2 separate regions of the Homo sapiens genome follow, and region 1 is linked to region 2. A link means that fine-mapping ties the variant in region 2 to the expression of a gene that starts in the linked region. Tissue or cell type: anterior cingulate cortex. Region 2 holds a variant in brackets; the other region holds the start of a gene. All regions are shown on one strand. Distances are from middle to middle. Region 1 holds the start of RALGPS1 (Ral GEF with PH domain and SH3 binding motif 1). Region 2 overlaps RALGPS1 (Ral GEF with PH domain and SH3 binding motif 1).

Evidence for each region.
Region 1: it holds the start of RALGPS1, and the variant in region 2 is fine-mapped to the expression of RALGPS1 in anterior cingulate cortex (GTEx, PIP 0.93).

The regions. Positions count from the first base shown.
Region 1 is chr9:126,908,135-126,917,831 of GRCh38, reverse strand. RALGPS1 (Ral GEF with PH domain and SH3 binding motif 1) reads right to left here and starts at 3,050. Exons shown (of 19, transcript NM_014636.3): 1 at 2,857-3,050. RefSeq lists enhancers at 746-795, 2,089-2,158 and a silencer at 2,649-3,078.
Region 2 is chr9:126,936,989-126,944,988 of GRCh38, reverse strand. The region is part of intron 1 of RALGPS1 (Ral GEF with PH domain and SH3 binding motif 1); the gene reads right to left. Among named protein-coding and RNA genes, the nearest start is that of RALGPS1, 26 kb to the right of the region's middle. The variant G/C (reference allele first, on the strand shown) is at 4,426.

The DNA of each region.
Region 1 (9,697 bases), 28 kb after region 2:
TCTGGAGACAGGAAGGGATTTGTTCAAGGTTACATAAAAAATAGAGGCCTCAGAATTCCCTGTCCTGCTCTCCTTGCATGTTACATGCTGTTCTGAGTAGCTTGTGTTGAAAGATGGGCAGGCAGTGAGAGACAGAACAGGACCCTAACCAGGTGGATCAGGTGCCTTCTCCCCTCCCGTCTCATTTATTCTTCATAACAACCTCACAAGGTGGGCATGGTTATCCTTGCTTTACAAATAAAGAAACCAAAGCTCTGTGAAGCTAAGGAAGTAGTGCTGGTTCACTCAGCAGGAGGTGGCAGCCTGCAGTTTCAAACAGACCTGACTGACTTCCAAGTCTGAGCTCTTACCCTCCATACTGAAAAGGAAAATCCATTTCAAGAGGTGGGCCATATCACAGAGCCTCACATGCAGTATTTTTCATTAATGAAGTATTTCTCTCCACCCTGAATGTTGCTAATCCCCTCATTATTCAACACATGTTCTAGGTCTTCTTTGCCACCAAGTTTGAGCTTTCCTTCTAACCCAAAGAGCATGATGGTCACTCAGACAGCAGCAGTCTCTGAGAGCCATTAACACCGCTTCTGCCAAGACAGAGTGGGAGAACTCTCACATGCTGCTTCTAGATCCTCTGGGACCTGCCACACAAGCACAGGCACCAGTAAGGGCCTAATCCCCTCAATGCTACTGGGTCACCACTGCACCAACTAGTGGTAATGAGGGAGGCCAGCACCATGGTTCCTGGCCCCTAAAGTCCCACAGCTTCTACAGTGAAAAAAAAAAAATTCAGGTTAGTAGAGAAGGCTCCACCTACCTTCACTTCTGTCCATGCAACGAAGGTAGGAGGCATTACAGTTTGGACTGGTCAACTACCAGTGAGCAGAGGCACTGGGCTTTGAAAGGTCACATATATGGGTATACAACACTCTTCTGAAATTCAGAAAAAGCCCTGTCATCCTGCTTCCTTCTCCCCGCCCCTGTGGGTACACAGTGGAGTCAGGCATTGCCTTCTTTTGGGGGTCTTCTTTTGGGGATTTTTGTGTGTTTTGAGATGGAAAAGTCTCACTCCATCGCCCAGGGTGGAGTGCAGTGGCACGATCTCGGCTCACTGCAACCTCCGCCTCCCACGTTCAAGCAATTCTCGGCCTCAGCCTCCTGAGTAGCTGAGATTACAGGTGCCCGCCACCATGCCCGGCTGACTTTTGTATTTTTTAGTAGAGAGGGGGTTTCACCATGTTGGCCAGGCTGGTCTCGGACTCCTGACCTCAAATGATCCACCCGCCTTGGCCTCCCAAAGTGCTGGGATTACAAGCGTGAGCCACCGCGCCCGACCCTCTTGGAATGTGGTAAAATCGGGGTCTGTACTTGGATGGGGGCAGAGGGACTTCCATAGCCTCAGGCCTGAGCTTTATGTTCCAGCTCAGAGTCCTCACCGGGGTTGGGGTCTAAAGGTCAGCAAACAAATGTTCTGCTGCTTCCACTTGCCACTGCTCCCTGCGTTGCAGCAGCTCCCTCAGAGGCCTCGCAGAGAGAAGCAGTCACGATCCAAGACACGGCTGAGTCTTTTGGGAACTCCCAACAAAACCTCATCCCAAACTGCGAAAAGACAGTGGTCTAGTCTCACCTCTTAACTAGAAACAAACCCTCTCTTCTTTAGACTCTCCAGTCCCTGAATCCAACCTGCCCATCGGCACAAGAAAAAGGAAACTCATAACTTTATCCAGCGATTTGCTCAGTAGGCACTGTTTCATCCTATCCTCACCAGGCCCCTGGGAGGCACACAGGCAGGTACTAACATGCTCATTTTGCAACGGAGGAAACAGGTGAAAAACTCTCCCAGGTAGCATAGTCAAAAGCTTCTGAATTCTCATCCCTGCTCTCCCCACTTAACAGGCTGCCATTTCAGTCTTTTTGAGACGCACTGCTGAGATCTACAGCAGCTTCTGGTACCAGTGGCCAGCAAGCCAGGACCCCTCCCAAGCCTCATACTACTCTTCAAGCACACACATTTTTCAACAACCGATCATCCAATGACAACCAACCCCCCGCCCCCCGCATCCTGGCAAGCCCCTTCAATAGCAACAGGAAAGCCCCTGAGGTGCGAAAAACAGCGCGCCCCACTTAGGGCGCGGCGTAGCATAGGGGAGGCAACCGGCCAGTAACCAGGGCAGCTGAGCTCCAAGCCCGAGTCAGCAGAGGCACAGGCAGGCCCGGACGGCCCTTCTAGCGGCAGCCCCGGATGCCCCCAGAATCCTCAGGGAGCCCAAAGCCCCCGCTCCCACCCAAGCACCCCTGGGCAGCGGAGAGGGCGGCCTTTCCTTCTCGGGCGACCACTCACCCTCGCCTGCTCCTCACCTGGGGCCCTGCTTCCGTACCGCAGCCACCCGGGCCCCGCCCCCCACCGCTGCAGGTCCCCGGGCCCCGCCCCCCGCACCTGTGCTTTCCTTGGGTCCAGCGCGGGCCGCACCCCACAGCCCCGCCCACGGCAGCCCCGCCGGCCCCGCCCCCCGCACCTGCAGCCGCGGCGCCCCGCCCAACTGCCCCCCCGGCCCCGCCCCCCGCGCCCGCGCCTCTTCCCCGCCGTCCTTCACGCTCCCGGGGACCAGCGCGCCCCTGGCCCCGGACCCCAGAACCCCCGGACCCCGGCCAGGCCCCGGCGCCGGGCACCCGCAGGCACGGCCCCGGCCCCGCCTCCCGCACCGAGGCCCCTCCCCGGCTTCGGCGGCCCTCGGGGTCCCGCCCCCCACACCTGCAGCTCCCTCAGGCCCGGCCTCAGGGCCCGCCCCGCCCCGCCCCGCCCCGTCGGCCGCGCCTCTCACCGCCGCTCTCCCCGCCGCCGCAGTCCCGGCCGGTCACCTTGACGCGGGCCGCAGTGGCTGCCGCCGCTTCCTCATGGCCCTGGGAGCGGCCCAGCGGCAGCGGCGCCTTCGCTTGGAGGCCGGGGCCACGCCGAGCCGGGCCGGGGCCGGGCCAGGCGCAGCTGGAGCGCGGGCAGACGCGGGAGCGGAGCCGGTGCCCAGCCGCAGTAGGAACCGTCCGCTCCAGGGCCTGAGCGGCGGGCCTCTCATCCAATCGGCGCGCGGCACCAGAACAGCCCCCCAACCAGCTCGTTGTAGGGGCGGAGACACGCAAATCGGCCGGCTGGTCGTACCAGTGCGCAGCCGCTGCATCCGCGGTCCTCCCGGGCCTCGGCCTCCGAGCTCATCTGCAGACGCCCTCCCCGCCCGCAGGGATGCTGCGCTGCCAGCACACCCGGCCCGCCGCCCGCCACGCCCATCCCCTGCCTAGAAATAGCCGCGCATCTTATTCCCCACACGGCCGTCCAGGCCTCACCCGATATCCCCCGTAAATCCCTACCTGGGATTTATCGTTTTCAACAAAAATGGTTTTGTGAGCGAGACATCGCCTTAGTGCCCATTCTTCACAGCTGGGAGGTAGGCACAGAGCCCAGAACGTCAGAGCCAGAAGAAACCTCGGAGTTCCTGGCGGGGCGGGGGGGGGGGCGGTCTCATCCATTTTACAGCTGGGCAGAGTTAGGCCCAACGAGGTGAAGGGACTTGCCCAAGACCACACAGGAGCAAAGCTGGGGAATGAGCCCGGATCCTGTCTCTCTGCTCCCACATCTTTACTCTGTGCCAGGCACGGTGAGGTGGGCACAGAGGTTAAGTCATTTAGCTAGAGTCGCAGGGATAATAAATTGCAAAGACAATTGAAGCCAGGTCTGTGAATCCCTGGAAATCTGGAACCACAGCAAAACTCCGTTCTGCCTCCCACAGACAGGAGGTACTATGACCTGCCCTACTCCGAAAGATTCTTGGACAAATAGAACATCATTCTGACAATCTTCAAAGTAATTTTGCAGTAATATGAATGAATATGGAATGATTGGTTATTATGCTTCCCAAAGCTTATGAAAGGAAAAAAGAAACAAACAAAAAAGAATATAAATAGAGTCAGTAGAAGTTAAACCACCTGTGTCTTAAAAGACCTCTGGGAGAAGTTTCTGCTATTTTGTATTAAGAAAACGGTAATCATCGAAGAAGGTGCTTAATTATTTTGCATAAAGAGAACAAGAGCCTGGCGAGTTGGCTCATGCCTGTAATCCCAGCACTTTGGGAAGCCAAAGCGGGAGGATTGCTTGAGTTCAGAAGTGTGAGACCAGCCTGGGCAACATGGCCAGACCCTGTCTCTAATAACAATACAAAAATTAGCGAGGCGTGGTGGCGCAGACTGTAGTCCCAGCTACTCAGGAGAGTGAGATGGGAGTATCACTTGAGCCCGGGAGGTCAAGGCTGCAGTGAGCCTCAAGTGATGGCGCCACTGCACTCCAGCCTGGATGACAGAGCGATACCCTGTCTCAAAAAAGAGAGAGAGACCATCCTGGCTAACATGGTGAAAACCTGTCTCTACTAAAAATACAAAAAATTAGCCGGGCGTGGTGCGGACGCCTGTAGTCCCAGCTACTCGGGAGGCTGAGGCAGGAGAACGGCGTGAACTTGGGAGGCGGTGCTTGCAGTGAGCTGAGATCGCACCACTGCACTCCAGCCTGGGCGACAGAGCGAGACTTCGTCCCAAAAAAAAAAAAGAAGAGAGAGAGAGAACAAGAGACAGTGTAGTGCAATGGTTCTGCCCTGGCTCTGCCACCAGCAAGCTGTGTACATGTGAGCAAGTTACTTAGCATATCTATGTGCCTCCGTTTCTTTCTTTTTTTTTTTTTTTTTTTTTGAGACGGAGTCTTGCTCTGTTGCCCAGGCTGGAGTGCAGTGGCACGATCTTGGCTCACTGCAACCTCCGTCTCCCAGGTTCAAGCAATTCTCCTGCCTCAGCCTCCCAAGTAGCTGGGATTACAGACGCCAGACACACCATGCTCAGCTAATTTTTGTATTTTAGTAGAGATGGGTTTTCACCATGTTAGCCAGGTTGGTCGCGAACTCCTGACCTCAGGTGATCTGCCTACCTTGGCCTCCCAAAGTGCTGGGATTACAGGCTTGAGCCACCGCGCCCAACCTGCCTCGGTTTCTTTATTGAAAGATGAGAATGATAAAAGTAGCAACCTCTTTAGACAGGCTGTTGGCAGGAATTAATGAGATGATACATGGAAGAGTGCCTGGCACCTAACAGGACCTCAATAAACATTGGCTACTATTATATTTACCTGTGTGACTTTGGGCAAGCACAGAAGTGTGTGCAATGTACGCTTGCTAAATGGCATCTATACTTTTATTATGCTTATGCATACTTTCTAAGTTTTTTCAATGAACACAGATTCTTTTGTGATATATTAGAAGTTATTATAAACCCAATTTTAAAATGAGGAAAGGTCATTTAATATTGATTCTTGATGCTTCCAGAAGGATGTATTCATTCTTTCTACAAATATCTAATGGTTCTCTGCTATGCGCCAAGTGCTACTGTAAATGCTGAGAAAACAGCAGTGAATAAAAGAGACAAAAATTCTTGTCCTCGTGGAGTTGACATTCTAGTGGGGTAAGGCAGCTATTAAAATCAATATTTACAGTAGTAGGCTAGATAGAGAAAAGTGCTATGGGAGTAAAATGAAGCAAGGAAGAAGGGAGTTCAACGTTAAAGAAGACAGAAAAGTTTAGATGGTGATAAGCGAGAAATAATAGGTTTCTTAAAGCAATAAAGCCAAGTGCAGTCTGAGAAAGAGAGAGAGAGAGAAGGATCTGAATAGACATTTCTCCAAAGAAGATACACAGTGGTCAATAAGCACATGAAAAAGTGCTCAATATCATTAGCCATTAGGAAAATGCAAATCAAAACCACAATGAGATACCACTTCACACCCATTAGGATGGCTACAACAAATAAGATAGACAATAACAAGTGTTGATGAGAAGGTGAAGAGAATAGAACCCTTGGCTGGGCGTGGTGGCTCACGCCTGTCTCCCAAGGTGGGTGGATCACCTGCGGTCAGGAGTTCAAGACCAGCCTGGCCAACATGGTGAAACCCCATCTCTACTAAAAATACAAAAAAATTAGCTGGGTGTGGTGGCAAGTGGCTATAATCCCAGCTGAGGCAAGAAAATCACTCGAACCTGGGAAGTGGAGGTTGCAGTGAGCTGAGATGGCGCCATTGCACTCCAGTCTGGAGGACAAGAGTGAAACTCCCTCTCAAAAAAAAAAAAAAAAAGAGAGAGAGAGAATGGAACCCTTATACACTGCTGGTGGAAATATAAAATGGTACAACCACTTTAGAAAACATAGAGTTAGCATATGACTCAATCACTCCACTCCTACTTACCACCCAAGAAGAAATGGACACAACATGTCTGCACAAAAACTTGTAGACAGGTGTTCACGGCAGCATCATTCACAATATCAAAAAATGTGAATAACCCAAATGTCTATCAAGTGATGAATAGATAAATAAAATATGGTTTGTCTATACAAGGAAATGAAGTACTGATGCATGCTACGACATGGATGAAACTTAAAAACATGCTAAGCGAAAGAAGCTAGACCACGTATTATATGATCCCTTTTATATGAAATGTCCGTAATAAGCAAATCTATAGAGATGGAGGGTAGACAAAGTGGCTGTCTAAGGCTGAAGGAGAGGAGGATTTAGGGGCAACAACTTAGGAGTTTCTTTGGAAGAGGATGAAAGTGTTCTAAAATTAATTGTGGTGATGGTTGTAAAACTCTGAATATACTAAAAGCCATTGAATTATACTCTCGCTCTTTTTTTTTCTTTTTTTCTCTTTCTTTTTCTTTTCTTTCTTTTTTTTTTTTTTTTTTAACAGTCTCACTCTGTTGTGCAGGCTGGAGTGCAGTGGCACGATCTCAGCTCACTGCAGCTTCTGCCTCCTGGGTTCGAGCAATTCTCCTGCCTCAGCCTCCTGAGTAGCTGGGACTGCAGGTGTATGCCACCACACCTGGCTAATTTCTGTATTTTTGTAGAGACAGGGTTTCGCCTTGTTGGCAGTCTGGTTCTGAACTCCTGACCTCAAGTGATCTGCCCGCCTCGGCCTCCCAAAATGCTGGGATTACAGGCATGAGCCACCATGTCTGGCCGAATTATACTCTCTAAGTGGGTTAATTATATCTCAATAAAGCTTTTTTTTTTTTTTTTTTTTGAGACGGAGTCTCATTCTGTTGCCCAGGCTGGAGTGAGGTGGCACAATCTCGGCTCACTGCAACCTCCGCCTCCCGGGTTCAAGTGATTCTCCTGCCTCAGCCTCCCAAGTAGCTGGGACTATAGGTGGGTGCCACCACACCCGGCTAATGTTTTGTATTTTTAGTAGAGACAGGGCCAGGGTGGTCTCGATCTCCTGACCTCATGATCCGCCCGACTCGGCCTCCTAAAGTACTGGGATTATAGGTGTGAGCTACCACACCTGGCCAATAAAGCTATTTTTTAAAGTTATTGTTGGCCAGGCGCAGTGGCTCACACCTGTAATTCCAGCACTTTGGGAGGCCAAAGCAGGCAGATCAACTGAGGTCAGAAGTTTGAAACCAGCCTGCCCAACATGGCAAAACCCCGTCTCTACTAAAAATACAAAAATTAGCTAGGTACAGTGATACATGCCTGTAGTCCCAGCTACTTGGGAGGCTGAGGCAGGAGAATCACTTGAACCCAGGAGGTGGAGGCTGCAGTGAGCCAAGATCACACACCACTGCACTCCAGCCTGGGCAATACAGTGAGACTCCATCTCAAAAAATAAATAAATAAATAAAATGAAGTTATTGTAAAGTCTGGTCAATCCCATCATTCCCATGCTTAAATATGTGTAACAGGATGTGGAGAGGATCTTAGCTGTGCCCACTAGAGTTCACTGTCAAAGTGTGATGTGCTGGTGAAATGGGCACATTCTTAGTATCTGATGTGTTTGAGTCACTCTCCATGAGGGAAAGGAACTTTTGAGCCACAGGAGGAAAGGAGGATTGGAGAAATCACCAAGGGTCAAGCCTCAACCCGGCTGTCTTTGCACAAACTTATACTTCATGGAGAGCCAAACTTGGGAAGGTTCAAGGAGTTGTTCTCATTAGAGATGCTGACCCATAAGGAAGGTGTGACAGACAGACTCTAAGGTGTCCCCATAATGCCCACCTCATTATGTCCCTGCCCTTGTGTGGGCAGGACCTGACTTGCTCCTAGCCAATAGAATGAGCCAAAGGCTTTAGGAGGTATGTGATTGCATTACAGAAAACTGTAACCCATCTTGCTAGGAGACTCTCTTGCTGGCCTTGAAGATCTAAGCCACCATGGTGTGAGCTGCCCTATAGAGAAGACCACGCAGCAAGGAACGGAGGGCAGGCTCCAGCCAACAGCCAGCAGGAAACTGGGGGGGCCTTTGGCCGAGCACGGTGGCTCACACCTGTAATCCCAGCACTTTGGGAGCCCGAGGCGGGCAGATCATGAGGTCAGAAGTTCGAGACCAGCCTGACCAACATGGTGAAACCCCATCTCTACTAAAAATACAAAAATAAGCCGGGCATTGTGGCACACACCTGTAATCCCAGCTACTCAGGAGGCTGAGTTAAGAGAATCACTCGAACTCAGGAGGCAGAGGTTGCAGTGAGCCGAGATTGTGCCACTGCACTCCAGCCTAGGCGACCCAGTGAGACTCCGTCTCAAAAAAAAAGAAAGAAAGAAAGAAAGAAAGAAAGAAAGAAAGAAAGAAAGAAACAATGAATCTGGGGCCCTCAGCCCAGCAGCCTGAAAGGAACAGAATGCTGCCAATAATCACATGAGCTCAGAAGCAGATCCTTCAACTGTTGAGCCTCAGATGTGACTGCAGCCACAGCCAACACCTTGATTATAGCCTGTGAGACTCTGAAGAAGAGGGCCTAGCAAAGCTGTCCCTAACCTATAGAAACATTGAGATAATAAATGTGTGTTATTTTAAGCTGCCACATTTGGGATAAAATTGTTACACAGCAAAAGATAACTAATACAGGCCATAACCCACTCTTTTCTGTTGCCTAAGAGGTAGCTCCTGCTCAGAGGCCATCAACACCCAGGTGTTATAAGGATTCTGGAATAAAGTATCCTCCAGATCCTGGTGGCTGGTATCTCTGGGGGCATCAGAAGACAGAAAATAGGGCGCAGGAAAGAGCACTGTCATTAGGGACACAGGTGCTTTTCCTGTGCACACAGGTACAATGGTGAGGTGCCACCAAGGGGCGTCAGGGAAAGCAGGCATCACTATGGGAAGCAGGAAGGAGGTGGAAGAATAGGGACTGAGAGTGAAATTTTGAATTTGGTCAGTTCTAGGAAACGATCTTGGCTTTTCCATTCCCATCTATGTGGCCTTGGACAAGTGTCCAAAGCTCTTTATGCCTCGGTTTTCTCATTTCTGAGAAGATAATATCCAGAGTACCTATCTTACAGGGTGCTCCTGAGGAAAAGTGAGTTAATCCTATAGTGACCATGAGTATGCACCTGGCAGACTTCCAACTATAGGGAGGTTATTTGACCAAGGGCTCAGCTTCTGCACTCTGAAATCCATCAAAGCATTGGCACCAAAGCCATGTTACCCATGGGCTGCACCCAATGACTGACCATGGCAGGAATACTAAGGCAGGCCTGGCCCCGGGTGACAATGGGAGTCCTCTGGTGATAGATAATCTTTGGCTCAAAGACAGCCCGACAGCCTTGCTGACGCTTTGTTGGACTGTGTGGCAGTATGGGATGCTTCCACACACTCCCTTCCCTCTCTCCTTTACTTGA
Region 2 (8,000 bases):
AGGGCTAGATGAGACTCTTTCACTCTATAGGCTTGACAAATAGAATCACCAAAACTAGACTCTAAATTTCATCCACCAAGGCTCAGCTGATACCTTCTGGACAGACTAAGGAACTATCACAGACCAGAGGAAACTGATGAGACTCAATGGCTGAATGCACTGAGGGACCCTAGACTGGATCCTGAAACAGAAAAGGGACACTGTGGGGAAAACTGGTAACATCTGAAAAAGGTCTGTAGTTCAGTAAACAGTGTGGTACCTATTAATTTCATAATAGTACTGTGGTTATGTAAGCTCTGTACTGTTTTGCAGCCTTTCTATAAATCTAAAATAATCTCAAAATAAAAAGTTAAAAAAAAATTAAGGATTCTATATTCTCATATCCTATCCCACCCTCCCTCCCCACCCAATTTCCCTCCCCATAGTCTCCCTTAGGAATAGGTCTAAAAACAGGGGTCTCAACATTTCCTGTGAAAAACCATTATGGGAGGACTGCAGCCCTGGGTGTTGACAATCAGGCATTTTACACCTGTTACGTGTGGGCCAAACAGAAACCATCTAAGGTGGACTGTGGAGGCGTGTAGGGAGCAGGGGGTCTTGACCTCCTTTTCCCTCCCTCTTAGATCCTGCCAAAGGCAGAGGCATTACTGGTCTGGCTGGTACCAAGCCAGGTCAGGATAGGACCACATCCATTAGTGTCACTAAGTGCCAAAAGATCATCACCTATTCAAGGCCTTCTCTTCTCTCCACTGCTGCTGTGAGATGTGTGGTGAACTAGGGCCTCTGCTTGAGCTCAGCCCCTCTCTGACTCCTGCGTGCATGCCTAAGGGTGCCCACCAGGCCTGCATGTCCCATACACTGCTGCTGGCTGGCGGATGGTAAGGGACCCAGACACAGATCAAGTTCAGGCAAGTGGGAGGCCCCCATGGGCTGCGAGCCCATTACCTGCTCCAACCCAGCTTTGACCAGAGGGTCCTGTGTTAGGGTGCCAGGCTTATAATGAGGGTCTCTGAGTTCTCCTTGGCTGCTGTTCCTTCTGCGATGAGGTACCTCAGAAACCTTGAGGCAAGGGTTAGGTTGGCAGAACAGGATACCCACATTACATTATTGGGCCTTGTTGACAAACAGCATTGAGTCCTGGCCCTACGACCTAATTTTCATAATGAACAGCCTGGTCCTTCCCTTAAAACAAGAAGGAAGCTGTCTACAGAGACAGGCAGGGTGGGCAAGGTCTGGTTGGAAAAGGGGCAGTGAAAGCAGTCCAGGCAGCGGTAGGAGAAAGACTTCAGGAGTAAAGGGCACACCCCAGGTGACAGGAAAACGGAAAACCTGCACCCAGTTTCTAAGGCTCTTCAGGGTCAGCCCACATTCCACGGAGAGCACTGCAGGGTTGATGGTGTGGGTTGGAGGTGCCAGAAAGGCACAGGGACAGATGACACTTTCACATCAACCTCGACTAATAGACTATGAAGATAATGAGAGGAGTCCACCCATTTGCCTTCCACTCTCCAGGTCCTGCTGAAAGGACCAAATAAATAAAACATAAGGCCAGGCACGGTGGTTCACGCCTGTAATCCCAGCACTTTGGGAAGCCAAGGAGGGCAGATCACTTGAGGTCAGGAGTTCACAACCAGCCTGGCCAACATGACAAAACCCTGTCTCTACTAAAAATATAAAAATTAGCCGGGCGTGGTGGTGCATGCCTGTGATCCCAGCTACTCAGGAGGCTGAGGCAGAAGAATCGCTTGAATCCAGGAGGTGGAGGTTGCAGTGAGCTGAGATTGCGCCACTGCACTCTAGCCTGGGCAACAGAGTGAGTAAGACTCCATCTCAAAAAAGAAAAAAAGGAAAAAATCTGTTGCAGCATTAAAATACAGAAAAGGATGACATCAATGAACTATAAATTATTAAGAATTTCTAGATTTCAAGCAAATGGAAGTGGACTAGAGAGAAATCTATGAATGATATCTATCCAGCTATAAAATCAACAATTTCCTCTGTACAAACAATAGCCAGCTAGAAAGCGTAATGGCCCAAGAGCCCACTAACAAAAGAGAAAAATATCCAGAAATAAACTTTAAAAGAAATGTACAAAAATCATTTAAAGAAAATTATAAAACCTTACTAAAAGACAAAAAAAAAGACTTAAATCAAAGGAGAGACATTTCACTCCCTGGAATAAGGAGACAGTATTGTAAAGCCATCAATTCCACCCAATCAATCTATAAATAAAATGTAAGTTCACTCCAAATCCTAAGGGGATTCATTTTGGAACTCAACAAATTGATTTAAAATTTCATCTGGAAGAATAATTAAAAACAGCTAAGACATTTTCAAAAAAGAACTACAGTAAGAAGAGTCTTATCCTGCCAGGAAGCCACAGTCAATGATAAATGGCAAAGAAACAGAGAAACAGATTTGCAGGACAAGACACAGTCCAGAACACAGGATCCAGTATATGTGAGGAGTAGCATATAACCAAGAGGCATTTCAAACAGTGGAGAAGATAGATTCTTCAATAAATGTTGATGAAACTATTTACTATTCACTTGGGAAAAAGAGGAATTTGTTTAAAATCTTGCTCAATATCATATATAAGGATAAACTTTTGATGGATTCAAGACTTAACAACAAAAAAAGGAAAAATACTAAAGAAAACACAGATCAAATTTTTAAAATAATTTGGAGGTAAAAAAAAAAAGTCCTAAGAGTGATACAAAAGCCAGAAAACTACTGGTAGATTTAGCTACATTAAAATTAAAACTTCTATAAAGGAAAAGACATCATGAAAAAAATGAAAGGCAGTCAATAAACTGGGAAAAGGGTGTTTGTGATGTCACATGACAGATGATGAATTAACATCCTTAATACAGGATGGCTCAACACTCGGAAGATGGGTGGACCTGAACAGGGGGTTTGTTCTCTCTAAACCTCAGCTTTCTCATCAGGTGAAAAGGAGAAACTAAGAGCAGCATCTTTCTTAGAGGGTTGGTGTGAGGATTAATATGAGCTATTTTTTGTAAAGCACTAAGCCCAGAGTTCAAACAAAGCAAGGAAATCATCAAATAGATAACCAGAGAGTATATGTTCCAGGAAAGCTACTGACTGTAACACTGGCTACAAAAAAGCCAGGAAAACACTTGAAAACCACAGTAAAGACAGTTAGAACACATCCATTCAATGGGATACTAAGTGGTAGATAAAAAGGTGAGGGAGATCAATACTTCCTGACAGAGAGCAATGTCCATAAACTCAGGGCACACTCACTTTCATGCTTTCATTCAATAACTATTTCCTGAAAAGCTAGTATATATCAAGCACTGTCCTAGATGCTAGGGATAGAGCAGTGAAGAAAAAACCCAAAACCCCCAGTATATTCTAGTGGGGGAAACAGACACTAAGTAAATCATTCAGCAAAAGACAAGGCTTGCCAGCTCATGGTAAGTGATAAAGAAAAAAGTAAAGCAGAGAAAAGTAGGCAGGGTGGGAGACAGGTCATAATTTTCTCTTTTTTTTACACTTATTTTTAATTTTTGCAGGTACACAGCAGGTGCATATATTTATGGGGTATATGGGATATTTTGATACAGGTATACAATGTGTAATAATCACATCAGGGTAAATGGAATATCTGTCACCTCAAGCACTTATCCTTTGTGTTACAAACAATCCAGTTATACTCCTTTTGTTATTTTTAAATGTACAATTAAATTATTATTGACTACAATCACCCTGTTGTGCTATCAAATACTAGATCTTATCCAATCTTCTTCCTATCTTTGAATCCATTAATCATCCCTCCTTCCCCAACAACCCCCCCCCACAACTAGACGAAGTCATAATTTTAAAGGGGGGGGGCGTATATGAGAAGTCCTCACTGAGAAAATGACACTTGAACATGTTTTAAAATCTTTATAACACATGTGAACACACATATAGAAGTATAGAAGGATATTCACTAAACTGTTAATATCACTGCCTCTTAATGGCATTATTGTATGGCACTTTTACTTTCTATTTCTGTACACTTCAATATTTTCTGGTTTCTTTTGAAATAGGTATGGAAAACATTTATGAGCAGCACAGCACCTAGAGGAAAAAACTGAAAATGAACTTACACAGACAAGGATGGCTCAGAGCTGGGTATTTAAAGACAGCGGTTCCCAGGTTCGGGTCTGGTGCCTGGTGCTGCAGCACCACCTGGTGGCCAATCACCTAACTACTCAATTTCATACAACCATGCCGAGAAAGCAAGAGACAAGATGCACTTTTGTACACAACAGCATAAGAATATACCTGTTCGACGGATCACGAGGTCAGGAGATCGAGACCGTCCTGGCTAACACGACAAAACCCCACCTCTACTACAAATACAAAAAAATTAGCTGGGCATGGTGGCGGGCGGCTTGTAGTCCCGGCTACTCA[G/C]GAGGCTGAGGCAGGAGAATGGCGTGAACCCGGGAGGCAGAGCTTGCAGTGAGCCAAGATCGCGCCACTGCACTCCAGCCTAGGCAACAGAGCGAGACTCCATCTCAAAAAAAAAAAAAAAATTATATATATACATACACCTGCCCAATGGACAGGGACTGAAGAAAAGTACACAAACATAAACACTATTCAGTATGTTGGGGTGGCAGGTGGCAGGATCGTAGCAGAATTTACGTGGCTTGGACTTTCAATCATAGGTTTATAATGATGCTTCATTTCTTTATTTCTAACTGTGCAATGGAACAGTCCAACACGACATCTGAATGTACTCACTCACTCAACAGAAGTGGAGTGAGAGGCGGGCTGGGCAGCACAGATTCATAACCCAGGCTATTTGCACATGGTAAAGAAGTGTGACAGGACCTCAGGGCACAGGTTGCTTGGAAAAGGAGGGGTCAGCCTCAATGGGAGTGCCTGGGAGATAAGATCCCAGAACACTGGCTTGGATGAGTAGCCACACCCCTGCACTCAAATTATTAATCATTAATAGCTTGTACACAGACGACTGAACTAGTACCTCCTCGCTGAAGCCCAGAGGCGAATGAAACGTATCCCTTAGGTGAGCAGGAAGTGACTTTGATCGCAGAGGACTCTACCTAGAATACTGTTTCCTTCCCCTCCACCCAACAGGCCTCCAGCCTGGGTCCATGGCCTTCCTCTGCAGGCTCTCTGCTTAGCCCTCCGCAACGCTTGTCACTCTGACATGCCAATGCGGCTGCTCCCTGCTCAACCATAAGAGCTCTGTAAAGCGAGGGTCATGTCTATCCCATTCACCCTCTATGTCTGTCTCACTCACTCTCAGAGAGGGACAGGACTTGGAAGTCCAACTGTCCTGGGTTTGAATCCTGCTCTGCCATCTACCACCTATGTGGCAAGTGCCTCTTGGCTTCTATTTCCCCTTCTGTAAAGTGGGCATACAGGATTGTACCCATCTCATGTGGCTGTGGTAAGGATTAACTAATAGCAACAGCTGGTGCTCAGGAGTACTGGGGGTGCCAAGCACTCGTCTAAGTGCTCTATATGTGTTAAGTTCCTTAACTGAAGCCATCTCTGTGCAATAAGTGTTGATCACAGTGCCTGGCATGGGATACATGTTCAAATACTGTTATTTCATCCCCAGTTTCCAGCACAGTGCCCAGCATAGTCTATTGTGTTCTCAATAAAAATGAATGAATACTTCCCCTGCCTACTATGGAAAGGAGAAAGGTCAGAGTGAGCCTGTGATGCTCAAGCCACCCCATGAGCACCCAAGCTGCCTGGTTCTGCTGTCCCAAAAGGCTGAAGGATAGTACAAAGGGACTGGAAGGAGAGAAGGTGCCTTGACAGACACATGCGACCCTGCAGGACTGGGGAGCAATGAGGATCACAGAGCCCATCAGGGGAACATGTTCTGTGCTGAAGTGCAGACCCTCTGCCCCCCTCTCCCACTTCCAGCCCTTAGAAGTGGCTCCGCTGTAGGTACAGCTCAGCCAAGGAAGGAGAGATTTGTGGATACCACATCAGGTCCCAGAAGGTCATTCAGGCACATCCCTGGCCACACCCAGCCTGCTTCTTTCACCACCAGCAAAAACGGGGGCTAGTTTGTCTCCCTAAAACCCTCCTCCCTCCTCTACTCCTGGCTCTTTCCTACTCTTCCATTCTCATTTAAATGTCACTTCCTGTGGGAAATCTCAGTGATGCCCTAGGTAGGTCCTTCTCCTACAGCTTTTAGAGCATCTAGACTTCTCCACAACACTCAAAACATTTGTCGTGAAGTGTGTGTTCATCTTCCTCACTGGACTGTCACAGCTGTGGCCACCCACAGCTTCCATGACTCGCAAAGCCTTTTCTGAGCAAGCCTACTTTGAAAACATATCCTTATTGCTATAGCCAAACCCAGTAGGGGTGTACAAATAAGAAGCCATCAACCCACCCTTCCTTGTACGCCCTCCCCCTTCCACCCACCTCACTTTGAGCCACCAAGAGCACATTCCTCCATGCCTTTCTGCCTACCAACATGTAATCATGCTGGGCTCATGCCAGAGACCAGGGTCATGGCCTCCATGCCTGCTGGGCCCAGACAGATCACGTCAATGGTGAAGCTGGAGGTTTAACAGAATAGGGACAGACAGGGCCTATGGCTACTACACCACCTAAAACTTCACATTTTCAAAAGGTGTAGCGTATTCAACTGGCCAAAGCAAGCATCAGAGAGGGAGATTAGACAGAGCTCCTCAGGTAGGGTAGCAGATTTTTTAAACCTAACAATATATCCTGGCCTTCTCTCGTGCCAATTTCTAGAGAGCTGGCTCCTTTCCAACACTGCTGATGGGTGCTCCCCTTCTTTTCACCTTTTTGCCACTATAAACAGTGATGCAGAAAATGGCATTGTATGTACGACGTTTTGCATCAGTGCTTTATTTCTGCAGAAGAGACTCACAGAAGTATACTGCTGGATTGCCAGACACAGATATTTTAACATTAGGTATCTTCAGATCATGTTCCCCAAAAGTTGAACAATTCAGATTCCCACCAGTAATGTAAAGGAGCACCCACCTCCCCCATTCACTTCCTGACACTGGTTTTATCCATCTTTGTGACCTTTCTGCCATTTAACCTGTTGTTGTAACTTGCATCCTGGTAGGGATTATCTTTTGAGGCCAAGTTCCTTTCTTTCTCCTTGTCTTCTTTAGCTCCCATCTTTAGCCAAGCACCCCTAGGTTCCCTCACACCTCAGTGTGGCTAAGCTCTACTCAAGGAGATGCACATGTTAAAGCTATGTAAAACTTCTGAGAAGTGTCTCAGAAGGGAAGGGGCACATCCTTCTTCCTCCTTTTCTCCTCTGAATCCTGGAATGCAGATGTGATGACTGGAGCTCAAGCAACCACACTGGGTCAGGAGGCAATCTGCTATGGATGGAAGAGTGGCAAGATATAAGGAACATGGGTCCATGATATCTTTGATCCCACTATACCAACCCTAGACTGCCCATCTTTTTACTTTTTTATGTGAGGATGTAAACCCATTGTCATTCAGGCATTATTATAGGCAACCAAATCTAGTCCTAATATAAGTTCTGATCTCCAATAGTCAAAACTGAACCCTTATCTCTCCTTCTGTAACACAATGAATAGCTATGTGGCCATGTTCTGTGTGCCCTATGTTTAAGTGCACTTGTTTCCCCACTCTCTCATCCTTCCTCCCAAAGCCTTAGGTATTGGAGAAATGGTTTAGAATTTTGTCTCAACCTATTATCATGTTTTCCCTTACAACAGATCTCCTTTATTTTTAGAACTCTTCATAATTTAATAATAGAAATTCCAACTCACAGCAGTTTAATCCATTGAGATTAAACTACATGCACTAAAAGATGTGCTGTTCCAGCCGTGGCTCATGCCTGTAATCCCAGCACTTTGACAGGCCAAGGTGGGCGGATCACCTGAGGTCAGGAGTTCAAGAGCAGCCTGGCCAACATGGTGAAACCCATCTCTACTAAAAATACAAAAATTAGCTGGGTCTGGTGGTGCATACCTGTA